Linked DNA regions of Homo sapiens: region 2 is linked to region 1. The links come from fine-mapping of genetic effects on gene expression. A gene starts in region 1. The other region holds a variant in brackets. All regions are shown on one strand. Distances are between the middles of the regions.

Evidence for each region.
Region 2: its variant is fine-mapped to the expression of GDA in skeletal muscle (GTEx, PIP above 0.99).

Annotation. Positions count from the first base shown.
Region 1 is chr9:72,146,932-72,151,331 of GRCh38, forward strand. GDA (guanine deaminase) reads left to right here and starts at 2,509. Exons shown (of 14, transcript NM_004293.5): 1 at 2,509-2,751. The coding sequence starts at 2,629. RefSeq lists enhancers at 1-499, 2,208-2,709, 2,710-3,209.
Region 2 is chr9:72,180,307-72,184,706 of GRCh38, forward strand. All of the region lies in intron 1 of GDA (guanine deaminase), which reads left to right. Among named protein-coding and RNA genes, the nearest start is that of GDA, 33 kb to the left of the region's middle. The variant G/C (reference allele first, on the strand shown) is at 2,621.

The DNA.
Region 1 (4,400 bases):
TTTACCTGAGGAGCACTAATGCCATGTCACCTGGAGGTTCATGGCCAATCCTTCTGCTTAAGACGATTAATTTCTTTAAAAGCATCATAATGATTATTCATCCTATAAACCACATAGTAACAACATTAAAAAAATCAAAACAAAATTCTCTACCTAGCAATTCCATTATCTCAACAGAACAACACACATTGTTTGATGTACCTTTTCAATTCCAGCAAATATGCTTATAGCTTTTCATGGTTTTCATCGTAGCATAGAAGCTGTTTTTTGTTTGTTTGTTTTGTTTTGTTTTTTTGAGACCGAGTCTTGGTCTGTCACCAGGCTGGAATGCAGTGGCGTGATCTCAGCTCACTGCAACCTCCGCCTCCGGGGTTCAAGCAATTTTCCTGCCTCACCCTCCTGAGTAGCTGGGACTACAGGCACGCATCACCACACCCAGCTAATTTTTGTATTTTTAGTAGAGATGGGGTTTCACCATGTTGGCCAGGATAGTCTCAATCTCGACCTCGTGATCCACCCGCCTCGGCCTCCCAAAGTGTTGGGATTACAGGCGTGAGCCATCGTGCCCAGCCAGAAGCCATTTTTGAAAGCTTAACATTGTGGCTATATATTTCTCCTGTTGTTTTTAATAACTGTATAATGTTCTATCAAGTAGATATATTCTAGTTCATAAAACTAGTCTCTATTTTTTTTTTTTGACATTTAGGTTTTCATTAAAACCTAATCATCAAAAAAATTATTAACCGTATCTGTTTTAGGAAAGTAATACATCTGTTGGAAACATCTGATTGAATCCTATCTCAAAAGCCATTTTCTTCACCTTTCTGTCTGAGGTTTTTGTGTATACAAGGGAATGTTTTCAGTGTGCTGGCTGTCGGTACTGCCAGGAGGGAGTGCAGTTGGCAGAATCAGGAGAAAGTGACAAGGAGCAGGGACAAGTGTAATGACCTCAGCTGCAGAGATTCCTAATTCTGGATCCCTGGTAGGGTGATCAACCATCTGTGTGCATGGTTCTGACGGTTTTCCTGAACGGCCTTTCAGTGCTAAAACCAGGAAAGTGCCTGGTAAACCAGGATTTGTTGGTCACCTTAGACATTGGTTATGGGGGAGCTGAAGGAACTGAGAAGGGAACGAATCATTTCTATAAGCCAGCCCTGTGTCTTAAAAGCAGCAATTCAGAGAAAAACTGCTCACACACTGCAATGAAACCCTCACCCTTTATGTAGTTGTCAAAATAGTTATTTGTCTCAGGTTATGGCTCTGCTCACAGAAAAACCATCCATTCATTTATTCAATAAACATGTATGGAACACCGGCATTGTTCTAGGCATAAGACACATTCCCTGCTCCTGTGGTGCTTCTGTTATTGGTGTGTGTATGTGTGTGTGTGTGTGTGTGTGTGTGTGTGTGTGTGTGTGTGTATTGGTGAGAGGGAAACAGGAGTAAACTAAAAAACACAAAATAAAGAAGAATGGACACAATAAATGCAATGGCAGAAACAAGATGGATTAGTGGAGTAGAAACTGCTGGGAGTCCGGTGCCACTTGGTGGTCAGGAAAGGTGACTCCGAAGAGCCTGACATTTGAGACAAATCAGTGGTGAGAAGAGCTGCCAAGTAAAGCGCCACAAGAGGGATTAGGGGCAGAAGGAACAGCACGTTAGAGGGCCCTGAATGGAAGCCAGCTGGGTTTCATGGAGGAACTTAGTGAAGGACCCTGTGGTCATTGTGTAGGGTGGGAACGCTGACCCTAGTTATGACCCAGTCCAAGCTCCATTTTCATAAGTGGGGATGATAAGCACACTGAGGCCCACGTGTCTTGTCCACAGTCTCTTGATTCCCAATTCAGCACCCATGGTACCATTGCTGCCTATTTGACTTGAGAACTTAATTTTCTCCCTTTGTACAACTGGAAGTAAATAAAAGAGATTCATTCATTTTACACGAGAAAAATTGGTATTGGAATTGTTTGCGGACAAACACAAGAACCAAAAACATTAGCCTCAAGGTGAAGAGAGGAACCTTGGCGTCCACAATGACACCCAGTTTAGGGGTCCCCAGAGATGTTCGGTAAGACATGCTTCCAGAACCTTCCAGGTGAGGACCAATACTAATTCTGCAGTCTACATAAACTAAAAATGAAACTGGTCATAAGGTAGGCAGCCCCAGCTGACCTTTCACCTGTGCCTGAACTAATGCAAGTACAGGACCTGAGTGCTACAGGTTGAAGAAGTAAGTGATCCTAGGAGTTGAAGGGTCAGAGGAGCCAGGCTGACACAACTCATAGAAGGTGGAGGAAGCTGATCTTCTGAGCCTCAGCTGTGGTTGATCTTGATAACTCAAAGAGTTAACACAACCAAAACTAACGCAAGGGTGGAGAGAAAGACCACACCCCACGGGAGCGCGGAGCCAACTCGCGGGAGAAAAATCCTATTGGCATTGAGGAGGTAGGGAGCCAGCCCCTGGGCGCGGCCTGCAGGGTACCGGCAACCGCCCGGGTAAGCGGGGGCAGGACAAGGCCGGAGCCTGTGTCCGCCCGGCAGCCGCCCGCAGCTGCAGAGAGTCCCGCTGCGTCTCCGCCGCGTGCGCCCTCCTCGACCAGCAGACCCGCGCTGCGCTCCGCCGCTGACATGTGTGCCGCTCAGATGCCGCCCCTGGCGCACATCTTCCGAGGGACGTTCGTCCACTCCACCTGGACCTGCCCCATGGAGGTGCTGCGGGATCACCTCCTCGGCGTGAGCGACAGCGGCAAAGTAAGCAGGCGCGGGGTCGAGCGCACTCCGACGGGCGGGAGGATAGGTGCAAGGAACCTGGCGCGGTGCTTCGCGTAGCCCGGGGTTCGCTCGGTGCGCAGTGAGCGCCGCGGCTCCGGAGTTGAACTTGAGTCTTTGGCTCTTGGGCAACGCAGAGAGAACCCTGGCGCTAGGTTCGTGGGCTGGCTGGGGAGTTCCCAGAAGTCGGGAGCAGTGGCGTGCTAACGCCACAACTGGCTCGACAGCAGTCCGGGCTGCGGTAGAGCCGGGAGCAAGGATGTCACCCCCCGCTCCCCCGCCCCCCGTTCCAATCCTAAGATACCGGCAATAATCTTCAATCTTGCTTAAATCATCTTTGTTTCCAACACCTAGCACTGTGCCTGGCACAGGAGGCTCTCCATAAATGTGGTTGAATTTATTGTGAAAGAAATAAGAGGAGGGGGTCATTTGATTGATGTTGTTTAGCGTGTCCAGAACATAGAATAAATAGAACTGATTACATTCACCCTATCATTCAACAGAGATAATATACTAACGATGAAGGTTCCACAACTTGTAATACTAGAAGGGATGGTCCGAAAGAAATAATTCATCCATCTCTTTTCCTTCCTCTCTCTCTCTTATACACACACGCGTACACACACACACACACACGCACGCACACACACACACACACCATAGCCATTTGCATCAAAGCAAGCAGTTCCATTTTAAGGTTCAAAATGTCTTCTTTGAATGTATCTTTTACACTTCCTTTTCCAAAATCAGGATTTCTACAAATGACACAGGTAACTTGATGTCTACTATTTACTGTTCCATACACACATATAGTGACTATATCAGCCATGGCCTGGCAAGTTTGATAAGTGAAGCCATTCCATTTTTTAGAACAAAAAAATGATAAAATAAATATGGAGATGGGATTTTTTGAGCTGTTTTCCAACTACTGGTTTGGTTAGCAAAAGTACACATACTTGTGATTTGTCAAGTTGAAGATACTATTCTTGACTAAGATGCTACCGAGTCGGTGACAGTTTTGAATCGTGACTCTTACATTTGGGGGTAACTAAACACTGTTTTCTCATGGTGCTTTAAAAAATACTCTTTCTATGCACGTTCAGGGAGCCTGCTGTTGTGTTTCCAAGGTGATAAAACTCTCAGAGCTCTCCCAGGGAGATTCCGGTAAACCCTGAGACTGATGAACCCATGCTTGGGGACTTGGTCCTCAAGTTTCAGGGAACTCAGGTTTGGGGCAAGTCCCAGGAAGCAAAGGAACGGAGATTGCTAAACTGGTGTAAGATTAGAGGTGTTATTTTAATCACAAGAAGCTGTTCAACTCTTGGGTTTCTTTTTTAAAAATTAATTTCCCATATCCAGAATTGTAATTGGTAGGGTAACAGGCAACTGGTTTTACCAGTGGAGAGGAATAAGAAAAGGAAGTAATAAAAATACCTTTTCTGGTGCTTGTACAGAAGAAGAATAAAAGAGTTTCCCAAACACACAATTAGTAGTTGAGTCAGGGAGTCTATTCCTCACTAAAAATCATACTGAAGTTATAAATTTAGAAAACATGCCCTTCCCCCACAAGACAAAATGACTTAGGAATTGAATACAAAGGTGAGTTAGTCAGTGGCTGGAATGTATGGTAC
Region 2 (4,400 bases), 33 kb after region 1:
AGACTACGCCACTGCACTCCAGCCTGGGCAACAGAGCAAGAGTCCCTCTCAAAAAAAATAAAAATAACAAAGGCCCAAAGGAATAGGCTTGTGTAGGGAGTACTTTTGTGTGTGCCTGCATTTTTAAATCAATGTCTGTGTATCTGATACAGTCTATTGAGATCAACTTTATGGTCAATTGATACTGCCTTTCAGTTTTTCAAAAGAGAGAGAGAGTGAGTGCTTTTCCTAAATTAATTCTTAGTTGTCTACTTGCTGAATGTAGTCTCTGAAGATGTCTTTTGTGAGGCAGCTGCTGAAATTATTTGCTTGTTTGATGATTTCAGGATTCAAATGTGTCATTTAACTTTAGAGCTGAGATTTATGGTGAATTTCACTCCGAGCTTGGTGTTAATTTTACACACATCTAAGCAGTTTCCTTCTTCCACAAGTTGGTTAAGCATCAGAGGATTCTGAATTTAGGAAAAAAAAATAAATTAGGCAGTAACAATTTGCATCCCAAAGTGATTCACAAGTTTTCAAGTATATTCAAGGGTTGTTTAGCATATTACCGACTACTTATCAAAACACGGGACTGATTATGACCTTGTTTTAGATTGCTGGTGTTGAGGTGCTACAAATGTGAGATCTGTATTATTGTGTTTCCTCATTGCCTTCGCTTCTTCTGTGGTTTTTTCCTTTTGGTCACTTTGGGTGTTCCACAGATTACCAATGTGTGCATTTCACATGAAATAGATTTTGATTTTTTAAAAATAGCATTTATTGTGAGTAGAAAATTTGGTTTCACTCATACATTTTTCTGGTGATCTTTGTGCATTTTACTTATTTTTTTGAAGTGATTCTTCTTTTTAATTAACTCATTGGGTAAAGAAAGTACAGTTCTAATGTCTATGTAAGGTGTAATGAATAAGGATGTGATGAACTGTGGTTATCTTTGAAGCTCTATGTGTTCTCAATATCCGTTCCCTTCCCTTATCACCATTATACTAAATTTTATGCTTATCATGTCCTTACTTTTACTTATACTTTCACAATTTTTTTTGTGTGTGTCACTTGTTGCTTAGGCTGGAGTGCAGTGGCGCGATCTTGGCTCACTGAAACCTCCACCTCCTGGGTTCAAGCAATTCTCTGCCTCAGCCTCCGGAGTAACTGGGATTACAAGCGCCCGCCACCATGCCCAGCTAAGTTTTGTATTTTTAGTAGAGACGGGGTTTCACCATCTTGGCCAGGCTTGTCTTGAACTTCTGACCTCAGGTGATCCACCCGCCTTGGCCTCCCAAAGTGCTGGGATTACAGGCGTGAGCCACCGCGCCTGGCCTCACTATCTTTTTTCACTTTCTTTTTTTTCTTTTAGTCAGAGTCTTGCTCTGTCACCTGGGATGGAGCACAGTGGCGTGATGGTAGCTCACTGCAACCTTGAACTCCCGGGCTCAAGCAATCCTCACATTTCAGCCTCCCAAAGTGTGGGATTACAGGTGTAAGCCACTGCACCCAGCCTATACTTTCACTTTTTATATTTGCGTTTCCAAATAATATACTGTTTAGTTTTTCAGTTAAAATTTTTTATTTTTAATTCATTAAAAAATGATTCAAAAAGTTACAAGAATATACAAAATAATGCTGCTATAGACTTCACCCGGATTCTCAGTGCTAATATTTTACAAAATTTGCTTCATTATTCTCTACTCTCTCTACATATATAGGTAGACACACACATGCACGCACACACACACATTTTTCTGGACTGAGAGTAAGTTATAGACATGCTGTTGGAGTCTAAATACTTTATTTTTTTTCCCTAAAAAATAAGGACACTGCCTTACATAATCATGAATTATTATCTGGGTCAGGAAATTAACATAGGTATAATTCTACCACATGATCTGTAGACCCATTCAAACTTTGCCCACTGGCCCAATAATGCCCTTGGTGGCTATTTCCCCTCCTCTTATTCAGAATCCACTCCAGAACCACAGGCTCCATTTATGTATCACATTCCTTTAGTTGCCTTTCATCTGTAATGGGTCTTTAGTGTTTCTTTGTCTTTCATGCTCTGGATAATTTTCAAGAATATAGAAGAGTTTCTCCTTTTTTCAAACTGTCCCTTAATTTGGGTTTGTCTGATGTTTCCTCATGATTAGATTCAGGTCGTGCATTTTTGGCAGGGACATCGGAGAAATGATGCTGTGCTCTCAGTACATCATATCAGGAGGCACAGGATGTGGAATTGTCCCGTTATTGGTGATGTTAACTTTGGTCACTCGGCTGAGGTGGTGTGGGCCAGCTTTCTGCACTTCTCTTTGTAAAATAAACTTTGTGGGGAGATACTTTGATAATTATATAAATATCCTGTTTCTCAACAAATTTTCACCCACTAGTTTTAGTGTTCATTGATGATTTTTGCATGAATCATTTTTTTATGATGATGGATGCCAAATGCTCATTTTCTAATTGTGTAATTTCTTCCACATATATTAGTTGGTATTCCACTGGAAGAAAGAACTCTCCATTCTCACTCATGTACTCATTCATTTACTTATCATTGTGGACTCATGGATTCCCATATTATTCTTTGGATTTTAATTTGTTAGTATTTTTATTTATTTTGATGCTCAAATTG[G/C]CCCAGATTTACCTAGTGGGAGTTTGTTTAGAGTGGCTTCTTTGTCCTTTTGACTACTTTCTGACTATATTCTAGCACTTCCTTACTTTTGGCACAAAATTATGTTCTAGATTCATCTTGTATTTTCCTTACCAGAGCCCTGGAATGAGCCCTGGAGTCACTTGGTTCTGTTTTGTGGAGAATGGTATTTAGAAACCAAGATCTGAGAACTAGGGGTGCTGATTGCATCTGGGTTTCATTGTCTCTAGGCCTCTCAGCAGATAAAGCTAGTATGTGTGTGCATGTAATGTATATGTATGTATGTAAATATATGTAAATATATATTACTCCTATATGTAATCAATCTCCTGACCCTGGGGACTGTCTCCTCGGCTACAGCCTTGCCCATTCCACCTGCCTCCTTGACACTGCACTTCTCCAACCCCAGTTCCCCTGACCCTATTAGCATTCTCAGCCTTGACTGCTCCCTTAGCCCCAACTACCTCTGCATTCCTGGATCCACCAGGCCCACCTGCTGGGGCTATATGAATGGAAGGAAAAGGAAAGGAAAGGCACAAAGAAATAGTTTATAAAGAAAAAAAGAAAAGGAAAAGGCTGTTTGGTTTTTAAAATATTACATGAAAAAATACATAACGTAGTGTCTAATGGCCGTTAGCCTGTAGGCAACTGGGGTTCAAATTCAGGATTTATTACCTGCCAGATGCGTAATTTTGGGCAAGGTACTTAACATCTCTGTGCCTCAATTTTATCCTCTGCAAAATGGGGCTAGTAATAGTGCCTCATAGGGTTCTTGTGAGGTTTAAACAAGTTAACACATGTAAAGTATGTAGGATGGTGTTTGGCACATAGGAAATATATTTTAATCTCTTTATTATTATCAGACATCCCATCATTTTAGAATATGTTGCTTTATATTTCTAATAAAAATGTGTTAAATACCAATGATTTATTAGTGGTGTCTTCTACAGAGATCAGAAGAGTTATTAAAGTTACCGTTTTTCCTTCCATGAGTATTATTTTCTTTATTCAGATTTGACTGTCTATACCTTATACCACTTTGCAACATAAGCATTACATTAAATTACTATTACAAATCTTGAATCTTTGCACTTATCTTTTAAAAATTTAATTTTTAGAGAAGTTTTAGGTTCACAGCAAAGTTGAGAGAAAGGTTCAGAGCTTTCCCATGTATCCCCTGCCGGGACACATGCACAGCCCCCTCATTATCAATATCCCCCACCAGAATGCTACATTTGCAACAACTGATAAACCTACATTGTCACATCATTATCAACCAAAGTCCACAGTTTATACTAGGGCTCACTCTTGGATTTGTACATTATGTGGTTTTGGACACTTGTATAATGATGTATTGACCATTATAGTATCATAGAGAGTGTTTTCACTGTCCTAAAATTCTTCTGCTCTGCCTATTCATCCTTCCCCCTCCAACCCTTGACAACTACTGATTTTTTATTGTCTCCATAGTTTGCCTTTTCCAGAATGTCATATAGTTGGGATCATATAATATGAAGCTCTTTCAGATTTGTGTCTTTCACTTAGTAATATGCATGTAAGATTCTCTATGTATTTTCGTGGCTTAATAGCTCATTTATTTTTATTACTGAATAATATTCCGTTTTCTGGATGTACCGCAGTTTATTTATCCATTCTTCTACTGAAGGACATCTTGGTTGCTTCCTAAAGGTACATCCTTCATCTATCAAGGAGTGTTTGTTTTCTACTACAGAATGATACTTGTAAGCCACCAGAGTCTGTA